Regions from separate parts of the Homo sapiens genome. Here region 1 is linked to region 2. The links come from fine-mapping of genetic effects on gene expression. A gene starts in region 2. The other region holds a variant in brackets. All regions are shown on one strand. Distances are between the middles of the regions.

Region 1 (9,375 bases), 28 kb after region 2:
CATTTTAAAAACATGTTCCACAAAATTAGAGAATTGTTTTCCTTTTAGAAACAGATGCAACTTCCTTTAAAACATCTTACGTGAGACACTGCCTTATACGGACACCTTAAGAATGGGACATTACTAATAGTAAAATCAGATATCAGAGGTTTCTTTCTCTTGGAAGATTTCTCCTAGGTATCAGCCTTAGTAGTTTGTTTGGATTTTCCAATTATTGCAAAGACAGTTTTATATTTTTCCTGATCTTCTCTATGGACCTAGTCAGTGCTCTGCAGCTTGGGTCCTTATAAATTTATCAGAACTGTAAAATGCTTCTCTCTTGCTTTGAAGGAGTCGTTTTTTCTTTTTTCTTTGCTTTTCTGTTTCTAAGCTACACTGAAAAAAATGAAAACATACATAAATACACTATTGCCTTTCACTGAATGCTTCCTTGATGCTGTATTTGACAAGGGTGTAAGCATCCATGATTCATGTACTTACCCATAATACTTAAAACAGAAAGGACTTTCTACATCTTCAAAGAAGAATATTGATTTCATATTGATGAGGAGTAATTGTGGAATCCATTACCTTTCCTCATGCCTCATTTTGGCTACTCTTGGGAGATGGAAGGGTTTTAGGTCAATATTATGAGGTTTCCACAGCAAACCTTACAACCTCTCTCCATGAAATAGGTGGCCCTGTCTGGGGATATACTCTAGTAAACAGATTTTCAATTCTGAGTTATTCTTGCTGACGTCTCAGTTAGACCTTGCTAATTAGTAACCTATAATTTGCTAAGAAAGCCAGTGGCTAAGCTGTTTGAAGGTTTCAAGCTTGGGATTAAGATATTAGGGTCATACAAAAGATAACAAGTGTTGGCAAGAATGTGGAGAAAAGGGAACCTTTACACATTATTGGTGGAAATGCAAGTTAGTATAGCCATTATGGAAAACAGCATAAAGATTCCTCAAAATATTAAAAATAAAGGTACCATGTGATCCAGCAATTCCACCACTAGGTATATATACAAGCGAAATGAAATCAGTATATCAAAGTGCAGATATCTGCACTCCCAGGTTTACTGCAGCACTATTCACAATAGCCAAGATATGGCGTCAACCTACATGTCCGTTAATGGATGAATGGGCAGAGAAAATGTGGTTTATATACATAATGGAATACTACTCAGCCATAATACAGAAGAAAATCCTGTTGTTTGCAACAACGAGAATGAACCCAGAGGACATTGTGGTACATGAAAGAAGCCAGGCACAGAAAGATAAAAATACCATATGATTTTGTCGGAGGCATGTGAATGAGAGCAACTCCATCTTGAATAGGGGCTTGGTAAAATGAGGCTGAGACCTACTGGGCTGCATTCCCAGATGGTTAAGGCATTCTAAGTCATAGAATGAGATATTTCACAGGATAAGTCATAGGATCAGATATAGGATAAGGTCAGCACAAGACACAGCTCATAAAAACCTTGCTGATACAACAGGTTGCAGTAAAGAAGCCAGCCAAAACCCATCAAAACCAAGCTGGCGATGAGAGTGACCTCTGGTCATCCTCACTGGACACTCCCACCAGTGCCATGACATTTTACAGATGCCATGGCAACATCAGGAAGTTACCCTATATGGTCCAAAAGGGAGAGGCATGAATAGTCTACCCCTTGTTTAGCATTTCATCAAGAAATAATCAGAATATGGGCAACCAACAGCACTCAGGGATGTTTTGTTTATGGAGTAGCCATTCTTTTATTTCTTTACTTTCTTAACATACTTGCTTTCACTTTACTCTGTGGACTTATCCAAGAATCCACTCTTGGTGTCTGGATCCAGACCCCTTTTCTGCAACAATTTCACTCATATGTGGAATCTAAAGATGTTGATCTCATAGAAGTAGAGAAAAGAATGGTGGTTACTAGAAGCAGAAGTGGTTGGTGGGTGAGGGTGATAGGAAGGTGTTAGTCAAAGGATATATAATTACAGAAAGATAGGAGGAATAAGTTCAAAAGATTTGTTGTACTGCATGATGACTATAGTTAAGAATGATATATTGTATTCTTCCTTAATTAAAAAAATGCAAAAAGAGTGGATGTTAAGAGTTCTTGCCACAAAAATGATAACTATGTAGGTAATACATTTGTTAATCAGCTCTATTTAGTGATTCCACAATGCATATGTACTTTAAAACTTTACGTTATACATGATGAATACATATAATTTTATCTGTCAATTTAAACAAATACATATGTAAATAGAAGAGGACCCATATATAAATTCTTTTTTAAAAAAGATATTACTGTCATAGAGATTTATAGCTCTGATTATAGAGATTAAAATTCCATGCTTTTCTGGTATGTGACCGATCTAAAAAAAAAAAATTGAACACTCACCTCCATCTCCATAAACCAAACTCCCACTGTTTAACCTAAAAGCAAATCAGCCTGCTATTATTATTTAAACTCTTCCCTCCCTTTCCCTAGAATGCTTGCACTACAATGAGCTTTTCCAGCACAGATGCTGAGCTGGTTTAGAAGGAAGATTATATACTTCATCCAAGAACTCTTCCATCTCACAGATTAGTGACATCAGGCCAATTGCAATTAAGTGATCCTTTTAGTTTTGGTCAGCTCCATTTCCCATTTTTATCTATTATTCTCAAACACACTACTTGTCCCCACCCTCCATCAGCCTACCAATGACTTCACCTTTATCAAGCATGCATCCTCTCTTGACACCTCTACTGGCCAATATACCTGAATCTACACTTATCATTTACTCCACCTTTCTTATCTCAGAAGTTCTCCTGTCCAAGTTCAATTCCTCCCACTATGTTCTAACTCTCATTAATTTCCACTCTTACTTTCATACTTTCTCCTTACATCTGACCTTCTTGATAGTTACATTCACACTTGGTGTCTTCACTTGCTCATCACGGTACAACCTACAGTACACTTTGCTTCTGCCCTCTACCTCTTAACTGACTGCACAGAGAAAGGAAGCCAGACGGCTTCTAATGTATCAAATACAATATATGGTCCTTAAACTTTATTTTTCATGATAACTTTGTCAAGCAAGGTATCTAATGATATTGCCCACTCCTTCCTTGAAACTCCCCACTTCTTGACTACCTGTGACAAGTCTGTCTCCTGAATTGCCTGCTACCTATCTCATTGTTCTTTCTCTGCCTCCTTGATAGGTTACATTTCTTCTACATTGTTAAGTTTTGCCATTCTAACATATTCTGTCCTTTGTCTACTGCTTTTCTGACTCTAACCATTCTCTGTTTGTAACCTCATGGTTTTCACTACCACCTACTTTTGTTTCCCAAATTATAACTCTAGCCCTTGCTTCTTCCCTGATGTTCAAAACATCACCCCCAACTGGAAAATCTTCCATGGTCATCTCCTTCCCCAGATAAGTGAATCCTTCCTTTCTGTGTACTGTTTAGTTTCCAGGTGATTTCACTGTTACATGCATCTCACAATATTGCAATTGCTGATTTACCTGTATGTCCCTTTTCAGAATATGGAAAATCTTCCATGTTCATCTCCTTCCCCAGATAAGTGAACCCTTCCTTGCTGTGTACTGTTTAGTTTATACATGATTTCACAGTTACATGAATCCCACAATATTGCAATTGCTGATTTACCTGTATGTCCCTTTTCAGAATATGTGAGCTCTCTGAAGAGAGGGATGATGTAGTCTTCATTTTTGGAATCTCATATATGCAAACTCAGAACAGGGTCAATACTGTTATCATATAATACTTCTTTTCATTTGATACTTCCACAGGTTGTACCTACTTTATCTAATCTATAATGTCATTATCAGTATTACTCCTTTTATAGATAGGAATACTGATGCTCTGAGAAGTTAAGCAACTTAGGCAGGATCACACAACAAATCAGTAGCAGAACTGGGACAAGAATCCTTTATTCCATTAAAACATACCCACATATTCTGCAAAGTGCTAGATTTTGGTTTTCACCCATGCTTGGTTACTTATCTGTGATAATTCAGCACAGGCAAGATATCACTAATATCAGAAGTAGTAAGTAGTGTAAGCAGATTAACTGTGCTCATTTAAAATGATTCATAGGCTTATGTCCTAACAAATCTTAAATAAACATTAAATTTAATTTCAGAAGATTATCCTCAAGTAGCCCTAATTATTTCAGAAGAAAACGTGTCTAGTGAGGTAACACGACGGAATACACTAGTTATCTGTTGGCATAAGTAAGAAGGGGCTTTGATTTCTGTCCAGTGTATATCTCACTGGTTTTTTATTTTAATGCTTCACAGAGTTGAACTTTGTGTTCTTCATTCTAAAAGGTAGCGGCTCTTGACCAGTAGCATCAATGCATATGTCAATTGAGGAATGGTTGTGCAACACGTAACAATGAGAACACATTCTGAGAATGTGTGTTAGGCAATTTCACCACTGTGTGAACATCATAGAGTGTACTTACACAAAACGAGATGGCACAGCCTTCTACACACCTAAGCTACATAAGATAGCCTGTTGCTTCCAGGCTACAAACCCGTACAGCAAATTACTGTACTGAATACATAGGCAATTATAACACATGGTAAGTATTTGTGTATCTGAAGATATCCAAACATAGAAAAAGTACAGTAAAAATCTGTATTAAAATCTTACAGAACCATTCTTATTGACTGAAACATTGTTATAGAGTACATGACTATATTGAATATCGAGTATTTAGTCCTATGTTGGTGTTTGTTATTTTTCTTTATTTTTGTTGTTGATAAGAAATAAAAGAGTTGCTACAAATAGCCTCCAACACTATAAGTTGCAAAGCAGTAGTTTTTGCATGTTAGGTTTTATTATGGCTGTCATCATTTTTAACAATTGGCTTCATTCCTTACTGTGCCTCTGATCATAGCAAAGTCAAGGCGATCCATTACTGACTTAAGCAACATTTCTCAATTCTGAAGGGGGAAAAAAAAGACCGTGACCAAAATCTTAGCTCAGCTTGGGTTTTTTTTTTTTTTAATACTTTAAGTTCTAGGGTACATGTGCACAACCTGCAGGGTTGTTACATATGTATACATGTGCCATGTTGGTGTGCTGCACCCATTAACTCCCCATTTACATTAGGTATATCTCCTAATGCTATCCCTCCCTCCTCCCTCCACCCCACAACAGGCCCCCATGTGTGATGTTCCCCACCCTGTGTCCAAGCGTTCTCATTGTTCAATTCCCACCTGTGAGTGAGAACATGCAGTGTTTGGTTTTCTGTCCTTGTGATAGTTTGCTCAGAATGATGGTTGGAAATTATCTCAGCTTTTATCCCAGTGTCCCTAATGAAGCTCTATAAGCATACTCAGGCTGTTGCAAACACTGTAAATCATTTCTTTGTTTCTATTAATGATACACATTCCTTGTCAAGAGGAAAGAATCAATATGTCTCAAAGTTGTCTTTTTGCTTTTTTTTTTATATTTTCTCTCAGTAATGAGAAGAAACACTCCCATTCTTAATCAAGAGCATTTTGTTTCATGACTTTGTCTTACTGTGATGCTTAATTATGTGTTTTAATTAGAAAACCTCTTCATATGTGACAGTAAGAGGGAAAGTGTTTCCTTGAATGACATAGAGTCATACAATAGTAGAGTGCTTACTATGTGCCAAGTAATCTACGAATATGCCCTGTTGAAATTAAGAGGATTAAAAAGAAACATCGAGGTCACTGGCAATGTTGCACAGATGCAC[A/G]GTCTGAGAGGTCACATAGGTGGTTCACCAGAGCCAGGCTAGAAACCACATCTTTATTCCCCATCTAGCATATGACCTTAGAATTAAGGAGCTGTGTTATTTCAAAAATTATTTTCCTAATAATGAATGCAATATTTAATGGTCCGTGTATCATTTAATATATTGATACAGCAGTGATTTATTACATCATGTCACGTAAGTCACTATCTATGTTTTACTGAATTGAATACACATTTTTGAGACCTTTTAATTTTATTTTCCTAACATTAAATAATAAAAAAAAAAACTATCCCATGCCCCCACCCCAATCAAGTTTCTTAGCTCATCCAGATACTTAATCCAAAGGGGAAAAATAAGTTGAAATGAAATAAGTTAACTTTCCCATGTTAACTTAGAACATAATGAAAATTTCGTAAGTTGTAGAAATGATCAGTCAGCAGCTTCCTGTGGGTCTTGGGGAGGTCACTGCAGTATCAAGGGGTCTAGTGCTCTGGCTTCTATGATATGTGATAACAGGATTTCAGAAAGGAGTTTTTTTTCCCCTGTCTCTTAGTTATGTAGTTTAGCAAGACAGGCTGGAATCACATTATATGGAGGTAAGAACTTAAAGCAATAAAAAAAGAAGAATGTCTTTTCCTTTTTCTTGGGAACATTTGTGTTTAGAAACAAATATATCAACTCGCTTTTCATTGAAAAGGTAAAGTCTACATTCATGTAGATCACAGAAAATCATATGTTTTACTAAATGAAAAAGTAATGGCCACATAGGAGAGCCAGAAAAAAATATGCATTTATTGGTAATGTACTTGTTTTTTAAGATAACCAAGCTGTATATATCCTAGCTATATTACATAAACAACAAACAAGCAAAACCACTAACAAAAATAAAAACTACCCAACAGGAAATGTCTTTTCAATGAGAATTTTAAATTAAAAGTTCATGTTTATATTTTATAGCTTTATTTAATTCCCCAGCATAGATCTGCTTGAATGTCCCTGTCTGTTTGAAATCGTAATTCGTATGAAATGTGTCAGGTGTCATCGCCCTCTCAGGATGACAGTGACAAATCTGTTTCATTCTGTCTCTAATATTGTGCTGGTGGCCCTGAAAACTGAGGGCAGCAGGAGTATCTGTCAAGTGCTCTGAACACAGATGTCATTAGACCTTGAGGACATGAACGCTTTTCAGCAGGATGTCTCCTCATCTCTCACTCTTCACTAGTCCACCGTCTACTCCAGAGCCACAGTAATCTTCCTCAAAGGAAAATCTGAACATGCTACCGCCTTCTTAAAAACCTGTGAGGGCTCTCCATTGTCTAGTGTTTCTCAGACATTCTTAGCTACAGCTCACCTGAGAAATATGACTTACAGTAAATTGGCAATGTGGCGAAGATCCTGGGAAAGTAGTAGGGGTAAGGGGAGGACATCAGCATCCCCATGGTGGTCAGAAGCATACATAATGTGGAAAATTTGACAGCAATTCTGATACCTTCTCTTTTACTTCTACCCTCATCCCTCCATAAGAACAAGTAACCTGGCTCGCAAAGCACTTTATAGCCCAGCTACTATTTTCTTTTCCCACATTCTTTCTTACTATGCCAGAGTTATCATGTATGACTGTTCAGGATGTGCACTGCACAACTGTACTATACTGCATGTAGTCCTACCTTCTGAGCCCAGGCCCACTCAACAAATTACTCACTCCATAGATATTGTGAACTCCTTAAAATCCCAAGAAAGTTTCCTGCCTTTATACATGCAGAGAATTGTTCCCCATTCACTAGGTGAATTAAAGTGAATCCCTTCCTTTGATCATTCAACAAATATTTGTTGAGTGGCAGGCAAGGTTATTCCTTGCTAAATTTCATACCCTGGGTGCCTAGCACAGTGCCGGGCACACAATGTTTATTAGATGAATATTAAATGAATAAATGCATGTTAAACGACTGGATGAACAAAACTAATACTTACTAATGCCCCATTCCAAGCAACACTACCTTTATAAATTATATCTGCATTGCTTATTTAGGAAAAGATAGGAGAAAGAGAAAGGTAAAATGGTTTATGCCCTTATTTAGAAAGAGGAGTCTGAAAAAAATCTGTGTGAATGATAATTCAGACCAATTTTTGCTTAGAGAATTTCTTTGAGAGAAAGATAGACGTGGGTCAAAAATTGAAGCTATAACAGGAATTGCATAAGAAAGTGGGAGATTGTATTGAGAATCAAGAGAGAAACAGAAGAAGAAGAAATGGGGAAAAGGGAAGCAAAAAGAGAAGAAACAAATATCATGACAGAATCCATAGTGAATTAAGTACATTATTCTCTTCATGATCTTCATTCACAAGTTCTTATTATACCTGGAATGCATTTTTTAAAATACATGGTTTACAGCAGTAATAAATTGCTTCATAAAATTTTCACCCCTTCCTTTTCTGTCTTTTAATGCTTAAGTGCCATGGTTCCCTCAGTGCAACTCTGGGTCTCATTAAATGATTCCCCACTTAATGGACCACAGAGGCTTATGTTTCTGCACAATCTGTTAACTGCTCTTCACTGAAGTCATCCTTTTAAGAGGCAATGGTATCTGACACCAACTGCCTAGTAGAGACAACCCACCTAAATTTAGATCTGTTCAGCCCCCTGGGATATCATATGCTTCCCAACACCTTCCTGTCAACTCCATTCACTGTGTGTTTTTACAAGCCATCATAACTCGAGAGAAAATATTGTTTTTAGAATGCAGTCATCTGCTCTCCAGAGGAAAAGTGTTAAATTAATTTATAGGACAACAGACTCTGTCATTGTCTAATATTATTCTGAAATGGCATATGCTCAAAATTGGGTGATTGGGAATTCAGCTATCTCCCTGAGGTACCTTGACACATGGAGGAGTGAGACAGCAGGTGTTCCATGGATAGTTTGCCATGTTGAAAGCTTGATTCTAGCATTTTCAAGATAACTGATAAGATCACCTGTTAGCAGGGCAAACTGAGGCACTACTAATAACAAATGACACTTAAAGACGTCCTTGCCAAAGGTGGGGAATTCATTTCAACTTCTCTAGTTACGTGCGATTACAAATTGTTAATCACAGCCCAAATAAACAAGCTTCTGGAATTACCGTTTTACTCTTTACAAGCATTTTTTTCTTATTTATTATCTTATTTACTATCTCATTTTAACTTCCCAATAGTCCTTTAGCTTATTATACCCTTTTCTTAGATAAAACTTCAGAGAGATAAATAACAGTAAACAGAGCAGAAGCTCCTATTTGTTTTTCCTTTATCAGGCTGCCAACTTGCTGTATGACCAGAATAAATTTCTTTAATCTGTGTCTCAGTTTCTCATCTGCAAAATAATGACTATAGTAATTCCTTCCTCCCATAGTTGTTCAAACACAGATATTAATATGTGTAAGCATGTAGAAACAGTGCCTGGAACATGGTGTAGACTCAATAATAAATAGCCTGCTATTGTTATTTTTAAATAATAATGTTGTGCTGCTGCTGCTGCCACTGATAATGATAAGGTTCTTACAGGTTTTATTTCATTTAATCCTTGGAGCAACTCTAAGTGGTTTGCATTATGTTCATATTTAAAAATGAGAAAACAGTGGCTCGACAAGGTTAAGTGAATTGCCCAAGGT
Region 2 (9,375 bases):
CCAGAGTCTTCTCTGAGGCCCCACGTGTTTGGGCGCCATATTATTGTCGACAAAAAGAGTGGAACTCTGTAAAATATTTGAAGAGATTTATTCTGAGCCAAATATGAGTGACCATGGCCCGTGACACAGCCCTCAGCAAGTCCTGAGAACCCGAGGTGGTTCAGCGCAGCTTGGTTTTATGCATTTTAGAGAGCATGAGACATCAATCAAATACATTTAAGAAGTACATTGGTTTGGTCCAGAAAGGCAGAACAACTCAAAGCAGGAGCTTCCAGGCTATAGGTAAATTTAAACATTTTTCTGGTTGACAATTGGTTGAGTTTGTCTGAAGACCTGGGATAGATAGAAAGGGAATGTTCAGGTTCAGATAAAGATTGTGGAGACCAAAGTTCTTTTGAAGTCTTATAGTGGCTGCCCTTAGAGGCAACAGGTGCCCAATGTTTCCTATTCAGCTCTTAGTTAATCTCTTTAGGATTGGGAGGGTCTGGAAGAAAAAAATCTAGGTATGTTAATAGAGATTCTTTACAGCTGCACATTTTCCCCCACAAAGAAACGCTTTGGAGGGTCATTTCAAAATATGGCAAAGAAACATGTTTTTGGGTAACATATTTTAATTTTCTTCTTTGTCTTGTAATGTTATGCCAGAGTTAGGTTGGAAAGTAAATCATGATATACGGGGTTAAATAAAATCCATCTGATGAGAATTTATGATTTGTAGGGCATGACTCCCCAGACCCCTTAGATAGGGATTTGGGCAAGATAAAAAAATTAAGAGTTCAGTCCTCATTTCCATACATGTAAAATATAAATAAGTTATTCCATTTTTAGGTAGTCAAGACAAAAAAAACTTCACACAAATAACTGCACACAAATATTCACGGAGCTTTGTTCATAATGGCCTGAAAAGACTCAAAGGAGCCCATACATCCATGAATAGGTAAATTGACATTTTGGGGGTTTTGGGGGGTTGTTGTTATTGTTTGTTTGTTTTGAGATGGGGTCTCACTCCATTGCCCGGGCTGGAGTGCAGTGGTGCAATCATGGTTCACTCCAGCCTCGACTTCCTTGGGCTCATGTGTTTCTCCACCCTCAGCCTCCCCAGTCACTGGGACTACAGGCACACACCACCGTGCTCAGCTATTTTTTGTATTTTTTGTAGAGATGAGGTCTCTCCATTCGACTTCCTTGGGCTCATGTGTTTCTCCACCCTCAGCCTCCCCAGTCACTGAGACTACAGGCACACACCACTGTGCTCAGCTATTTTTTGTTATGTTTTGTAGAGATGGGGTCTCCCCATGTTGCCCAGGCTGGTCTCAACCTCCTGGGCTTGAGTGATCCTACGTCTTCAGCCTCCTGAATAGCTGATACTACAGGCAAGAGCCACTGTGCCCCCTGGTAAATTAACTTTTTAAATGTAGCATACTTATAACAATGTAATATTAAGAAGCAGACACAGTAACACTGATGAATTTCAGAAACTTTATGTAGAAGGAGCAGAGCCAGACAAAAGAAGCACTTACGATATATTTCCATTTCTATGAAATTTTAGAAAGTGTGTAGTTAATTAATAGAGACAGAAAGCAAATCAATATTTGTCGTGGGCTAGAGGTCAATGGGGGATTGTTTGGAAAGTGGCACAAGGAAAACTTTTAGAGTAATGGAAATGTTGTATACCTTCTTATGGTGTTTACAAGAGCACATATAATTGTCAAAAACTCAACTAATATCCAAGACAATTTGCACCTGACAGAGTTAAACAGCAACAAAAGACTTTATTTAAGACCACTGTAATAAGGCACAGAAAGAGGGCTCAATGCCACTGAAAAAAAAAGCAGGAGAGATTTTAAGCACAGAAGTCCCTAAGTGGAAAAGTACTGTATGTTGGTCAATAGGGTTAGACCATCTGTGTTTGCTGATTGGTGCTTAGGGAAGTCAGGCTCCTACTCTCCCACAGAGATTAGGAGATAAAAAAAGGTTCTACCTTTCTTAATTATTGAATTTCAAAGAGATGACACCCAGGTTTTTGAGAAAGATGGTTCTGCATTGTAGAACTGATAAGAGGCCAGAAGATTTACATCTTAAAGGAGCAGAGAAAATGTACACTTTGCAAGTTTTTTTTAAAGTGAATGGTCTAAAAATAGGGAGGTCAGAGGCCAACAATCAGGAAGAACCCTGTCTAAAGGTTAGTCAGGCAGCAGGAAACATTAGGCCATCTTGGTCAGTGACTGTATCTGCACTGTTTTTTTCTATACGTAATACCCATGATAAAGTTTAATTTATAAATTAGGTGCAGTAACAGATTAACAACTAATAATAAAACAATTATAACAATATGCCATTATCACTAATTTTGCACTTTGGGTCATTAATATGTAAAATAAGGGTTATTTGAACACCAGCACTGTAATACCAACAGTTAATGTGACAACTGAGATAGCTACTAAGTGACTAATGGGCGGGGTGGCTTAGACACTGTGGATACGCTGTACAAAGGGATGATTCACATCATTCACATCCTGTGTGTGATGGATTAGGACAGCCTAAGATTTGATCAGATACTTAGAAGGCAAGCAATTTATAATTTACAAATTATTTCTGGAATTTTCCATTTAATATTTTTGGACCTCAGTTGACCATGCAGTTGACAATACATGTGCAAAACATATATTGTATATTTCATTTATGTAAAACTTACAGATTATAGTGATATTAATGTTGAATAAATAAACTGAAACTTTATCAAAACCAGGAATGGAAGGCACTACTGTACACCTAAAGTAGATGTGTTAATTGTATTTTATATCTCAATAATGTTTATTAAAAATAAAAATCAATAAACCATGGAAAGTGTTGGGGAAATAATTATGTCATGGAAAGTGTTTTGATAATAATTAAAAACAAAATCTGCCAATGCAGGAAACTCTCCACAAATGCAGAAAAGAAACAGTTTTATCATTGAATAAGCATTAAATCGATTGTGATTTCTATCAGAAGCAATCTACTAAAGAGTTTGCAATGAAAACATTCTTCACCATTTTTATATAGCCTGTCAGATACAGTCCACTACACACATGTTAATTGTTTTTATCTAAAAGAAATCTAAAGGAAAGAATAACACTTGTATCTCTTGACAAGCAGAAAGCTCCATCTTGAAGCCAAGTGCCTAGACAGTAAACTACCATGAAGACGGGGAGACAGGTGCCACTCTGGGATGTTTTCATTTCTAAGAGAAAGCCAATAGGCCTCCAAAGATATTCTGAGGATACAAAACTGGCAAGAGGCTTATTTAGGTTCTTTCTTTCTGATGCAAAACTGGCAAGAGGCTTATTTAGCCTCCCCTGCCCTCCCCTCCCCTCCCCTCCCCTCCTCTCTTTCTTTTCTTTCGACGCAATCTCTCTCTGTTGTGCAGGCTGGAGTGCAGTGGCGCGAGCTCGGCTCACTGCAACCTCCGCCTCCCGGGTTCAAACGATTCTCCCTGCTCAGCCTCCGGAGTAGCTGGGATTACAGGCGCCCACCACCATGCCTGGCGAAGTTTTGTATTTTTAATAGAGAAAGGGTTTCCCCACGTTGGTCAGGCTGGTCTTAAACTCCTGACCTCAGGTGATCCACCCACCTTGGCCTCCAAAAGTACAGGAGTAAGCCACCATGCCTGGCCTTTTTTTTTTTTTCATACATTTCAGTGAGACAGAGATAGCGCTTACAATTTCACGTTTTCTAAACACAATGCTAAAGAGGAGGTGGGTAGTTATCTTTCTCTTTTTGCAACAGAGAACCTTCACTTTTTCTTTATATATTTTTATTTACCCTTAGAAACGGCCCATGCAATCGAATAATAGTATTAAAAAAGCATCATCCCCTATTATTTAAGGAATAAACTACTGTTTCATTCAATAACATGGAAGAATTTAGAAAATATTATGGCTTTTGCAAAACATATTGTATATTTCATTTATGTAAAACTTAAAGACTATAGTGATATTAACATTTATGCAAAACTTAAAGACTAAAGTGATATTAAACAAATTAATAGTTTCCTGGATCTAGGTATAGGATAAAGTATTGAATGGGATTGGGTACAATAGAAGGTTTTTGGGTGATGGAAAACTTACATATCTTGAATGTGGTGATCACATGTTTGTTAAAACTCAGTGAACTCTACAATCAAAATAAGTGCATAATATTATATGTAAATTATACATCTATAAAAAATTAACCAGCAAGTATATCAAAAAGCCGACAATGGTTTCTGAGACGCTGTCACTATACATCCTACCTTTTTGTAATGTTTGAAAATTTTTACATAAGCAGAAATAACTAATAGAATGCAAAAATAAAATAAAATAAAATAAAAGCATTTGTGTGGAGACGAGATCAGTAACTTTAGTATCACCTGTGGGTTTACTGGAAATGAATCTCAGGTCCCACCTTATACTTACTAAATCAGCAAGTAAATTTTAACTAGTTGCCCAGCTGATTCTCATACTTATTAAAATTTGAGGAGAATCATTAAAACATTTCTCAGTAGATGAAACTTTATTATTTCTCTCGGAAGGATAAATGACTTCTAAATACCAGAAACTAGTGGAAATGTCAACTAATGCCACATTTATGACGCTAGATTCATCGTCATAATAATGGATTTTATATTCTGCCCTCTGTTCTGGAATAGCACTGTCACTAAGAAGGGAGAAAAGGGTGCTGATGTTTACTTGGAATTTTGGCTTTAATTTCTAGGACACCAGAGTCCCATCTCATAAAAAAAGGTAGCATGAACTACCCAGAGCTGTACCACTCATTCATTTATAAATGGTAAGGCAAGGTTAGCAGGAAGAGCTTTGGAACCGTAGCGAAGCTTTTCCATCCCTTCCCTGCATTGCTACCCACAGCAGGTGTTTCCTGGAACCTAGGCTTTGGCCACAAGCCCAGCGGTCGCGGGGCGGGGGTAGGCGGAGCTGTGGGTGAGGAAGGGGCAATGCCTTAAGGGGGCGCAGCTGAGCTGTGGGACTGGTTGGTGTCGCGAGAAGAGGGGGGCGTTGCCGCAGAGAGGCGAGGCGGGGCAGAGCTGCGGGGTGGGGGCGGGGCGTTGCCGCTGGGGCGGAGCCGAGCCAGTGGAGGGCGGTGGGGGCGGGGCAAGCGCGGAGGACCAGGGACCGGCTCCGGACCGCGCAGTTAGCGCCGCCTGGCCTGGGCCGGACCCGGTCAGGGTTCTCAAGCTGTCGTCCCTATGGGGCTGTGTTTTCCTTGTCCCGGGGAGTCCGCGCCTCCCACGCCGGACCTGGTGAGTAGAGCAGGTCCCTGCGTCCGCCGGGCCGCGCCTTGAGCACCTGTCCTCGGGTTGCGGGGCGGGCCGAGCCATTGTACCTGGTGGCGCAGGTCGAGAGCCCGCTGGGGGACCCTGCTAGCGAGGACGGGTGGACGCGTCAGGAGGGTCGTTGGGTCCTGTCAGAGCGACCTAGGCCGTCGCCTCCGTGTAGATCTCCACTTTTGTAACAAAAAGTTGTCGAAAGGCGGCTGTGGCGTCTTTCTACCTTCCACTGACTTTAGCTGCGCCGGATCTTCATAGGGCGCCGGCGCACGCAGAGGGCGTTACGCGTGGGACATTCCGGGGGATGTGGTAGATGGAATTCGGCGCGAAAAGACATTGCTTTCTCCGGGAGCTCTTTAGTCGTCTAGGAGATGTGCGTTTTCAACTGTGTCTACCATCTTTTAAAAGAAGGTGCTCGGAAAGTCGCTTATACGCCTGAGCTTTATCGGATATGTTTTTTTAATGATTTCTTTTTAGTATTTATCTCATTCTTTTACGTTCTCCCTTTAAAAGAATATGTAGTACAGAGTGTCCAATTTATAATGTCGTATTTAATAAAAATACTGGACACCCAGTTACATTCGAATTTCAGATATACAAGGAATACGTTTATAATATCGTTTTGTGCCATGCAATATTAGGGATCTAGTTCTACAAAAACATTACTCATTGCTTATCTGAAATTCAAATGTAGCTAGTGGGTGTGTGGTACAATACATGTACACTTTTTGTAGCTTTCTGTTAACAGTATCTTTACATTAGTACTCCTTACAGGGAGTTAACATAAACCTGTTTCTCTTCTCTAGCTAAAAATTAGTTGAAGAAAATGAAGTATTTTTGGGAAGTACATTAACTCTTCAGCTACTATAGATACTAAAAATTTAGTACTTATAAATTTGATGTGGGAAAGTTCAGCTTCTCTTTGTTGCTGCTGTTGTTTTAAATTAAGTTGATTTTGTTGTTCTGGCTGTCGATAAAATATAACATGTCAGATTTGTTAAGCCCTCCCCCCCATCCTCATACTATACCCTCTTCCCTTGATAACCACACGGCTCACTGCTTGGATGTCACTTTACCAGTGAAGCTTTTGCTGACCACGTTAAACAAAATATATTCCCCACAATACCACCCACCCATTCTCCCATTACTTATCTGCCATGCCATCTGACAGACGTTTACTTACTTCATTATATTTGTCTGTGCGCCCGCAATTGGAATTTGTTTCATTTGGGAGGAGACATTTATCTATGTTTTTACACTGTTGTATCCCAGCACCTAGAAAAAGGGCTTTATAATAAGTAGTACATGGTCTAGAAAAATAGCATTCACTGTTTTCTGATATGGAACAATACCTCTCATGAAATTACTCCAGTCCTTCCCTCCTACACACTGAGATTAGCCCACTTCATTTATTAACCTTTCCTAAAAACACCAGGTTACTTCAGACTCCATTTTAACCGGCAGTAACAAACCATGTATTTTCCTTTTTGTATTTGTAAACATTATTTGTTTTGTTATTGCCCTGACTAGCTTGTAGGCCTTTTTATTAAAAAAGAGAGTAAATAAATGATTATATAGGTAAACCTTGTATCTGTTTTAGCATGTGCTGATTTGAAGGCATATTGATTAGGAGAATGAAATTCAAAAAGTTGAGTAGTGGCATTCTTTGTGGGACATTTAGGGCCAGTACCGAATATTTTTGTAAATTGTTATAGTGCCTATGAAATAAATGTGAATAATTTATTAATAATAATGTTTGTTATTTTAATACATATTTTTACACATTTATTTAGGAAGAGAAAAGAGCAAAGCTTGCAGAGGCTGCAGAGAGAAGACAAAAAGAGGTAAGATTAAAGATCAAGTTTTGCCTACTTAGATAATTGAGTTTGGACTTTATTCTTCATAGATGTCCATAGCTAGATTTTCTAACGCAAATGGCCTTTGATATCCCAAAAATTTACATTTAAATGTAATTATTTTCAAAATGATTTCCTTATTTATATGAATTGCATTAATATATTTATATTAATATATGAAAACTATCATATCTTCTCTAAATTCAGATACTCTTTTAGTAACATCCTTCCTTTTAAAATGGCTGTGCATTGTAAAATACTTACAGATGTGAAGCAAGTTTAGGGGAAAATTTGTATAGTTACAAAATACCCAGTGAAGAAATGATGTTTTATGTAAGGCTGTTGTAGAAACACTCCTTCTATGTTACCAAAAATAAACCAACTCCCTACCCCCAAAGAAAAACCTAGAAAGCAAAGATAGACAAAAAAATGTTTTGCACACTGGACAGATTTTTGTTGTCTTTCTGTTTTTCTTATCAAATTTCTTCAAGGCTGCATCTCGGGGAATTTTAGATGTTCAATCTGTGCAAGAAAAGAGAAAGAAAAAGGAAAAAATAGAAAAACAAATTGCTACATCCGGGCCCCCACCAGAAGGTGGACTTAGGGTAAGTATTAAAATTTTCTTAGTGATTAACTTAACTGGCATTTTAAAAAAACTTAAGTAGCAATCCATTCATAATTTTCTCCTGAAATGTATTATCAGAAAATTTTGAAATAGTTTAAAAGCATGAGTAGTAAATATTGGAAGTAATACCAATTTATTTTAACATTTATTGGAATCAATTAGCTTTTTTCCCCAAAATGAAATAATAGATTTATTATTTTAACACTATATATATTTTAATACTCTTATGCTTACTACTAATCTTAAATAATTCAAAAATTCAAGCAATATGGAGAAGTATAAAGAAGTGTAAAAGTCATCCAAACTAAGTACCATTTTGACAGACATAATTTCTAACCTTCATTTATATATCTTATTAAATTGGATTACGCTATAAGTTCTGTTTTATGGCCTGAGCTCTTTTACGCATTGATTTGGAATCTTTGATCTTTCCATTGCCCCTGTTTATTATAGTTATGTAAATGTTAATTTGGATTACAGAATGTATACAGGTGTGGGTATCATACACATACCTCCCTAGATATGGATCCCAGAGCTAGACACTGGGAATATAATGGTGGACAAGTTAAGCAGAGTCTCTGAATGCTGGAGTCTTTACACTCTAGCAGGACTTTAAAGGATTTATTTTTAAAATCCCTTAAAGCTCAGGAAAATAATGGCTCAGATATTAAGAATTTATTCTTGGTCCATTTTTAAAGTAAATAGTAGTATATTTGTGAAAAGGACAATGTCTTTAATTTCAGTCATTTATATTTAACTTGTCAATGATTTATGAGTACCTTTCAACAGATTTATTGGTTTTTTTTCTCTCAAAACTACACACACACACACATGCACATACATATACATGGACATATACACATACACTTGCCTACATGTAGATACTCTCGTAACTTGTGGGGCAGGCAGTTTATGAACACCCTGAGCAGTTGATTCTGGCTCAAGAATATCACAGAAATAAGAATGTGTGTCTGTGTATTTTACTATTGTACGTTACTTCATCTTATATCATTTAACGAATGAAAATTTATGAAGTTTTTTTATGGTGAACTTTTAGCAATATATAATTAGTTTCAATATAAGGTAAATAAGTCTGACCATTTTGCTTATGTTTTTTATAATTCCATAATAGAACAGAATAGGTCTAGTGTAAAGTAAAACAGTTGGGTGATAACGAGGTCAATTCTTTATCATATCTCAATATTCTGTTGAGATAAAGTGCTGTTTCACTAGGTTTACTTCATATAGGGTTGTCAAAAACAAACACAAAATTACAAAAGTTAAATTGTAGGACTGGAAATAATGAGATCCACTATTTCACAGTAGAAGTGGTGAAGGTATTAAGTTAAAGTCATACGTAATGTTATAGGAAAAGGATAATTTAATCAACACTTAATCATAATTAAGAAGACACTTCACAAGTTCTAACCTAATGAAATTAACATCAGCTTTTAAAGTATAATAAAGAAAGAGGCTTTCTTAAACTTGAAGCTTCCACACTCTGAAGTCTATAGATTAAAAAAAAAATTTAGGCCTTATATTACTTACAATCCATTCAAAAGTGCTCAAAATGTAAAACATACCCAAAG

Alleles and levels. Alleles are on the strand shown, and positions count from the first base shown. SD is a standard deviation of normalised expression in the study named.
For the expression in minor salivary gland of the gene that starts at base 5,172 in region 2, allele A in region 1 goes with a higher level than allele G (small effect, 0.35 SD a copy in GTEx).

What was found. PIP is the estimated chance that this variant, and not a neighbour inherited with it, causes the effect.
Region 1: its variant is the best candidate, but not a certain one, in a credible set for the expression of SVIP in minor salivary gland (GTEx, PIP 0.59).

Annotation. Positions count from the first base shown.
Region 1 is chr11:22,798,090-22,807,464 of GRCh38, reverse strand. All of the region lies in intron 7 of GAS2 (growth arrest specific 2), which reads right to left. Among named protein-coding and RNA genes, the nearest start is that of LINC02718, 27 kb to the left of the region's middle. The variant A/G (reference allele first, on the strand shown) is at 5,729.
Region 2 is chr11:22,825,598-22,834,972 of GRCh38, reverse strand. SVIP (small VCP interacting protein) reads left to right here and starts at 5,172. Exons shown (of 4, transcript NM_148893.3): 1 at 5,172-5,278; 2 at 7,099-7,149; 3 at 7,653-7,766. The coding sequence starts at 5,225. It overlaps LINC02718 (long intergenic non-protein coding RNA 2718), which reads right to left and starts at 5,559. Exons shown (of 11, transcript NR_187210.1): 1 at 5,362-5,559; 2 at 1-66. RefSeq lists a silencer at 5,048-5,117 and an enhancer at 5,268-5,577.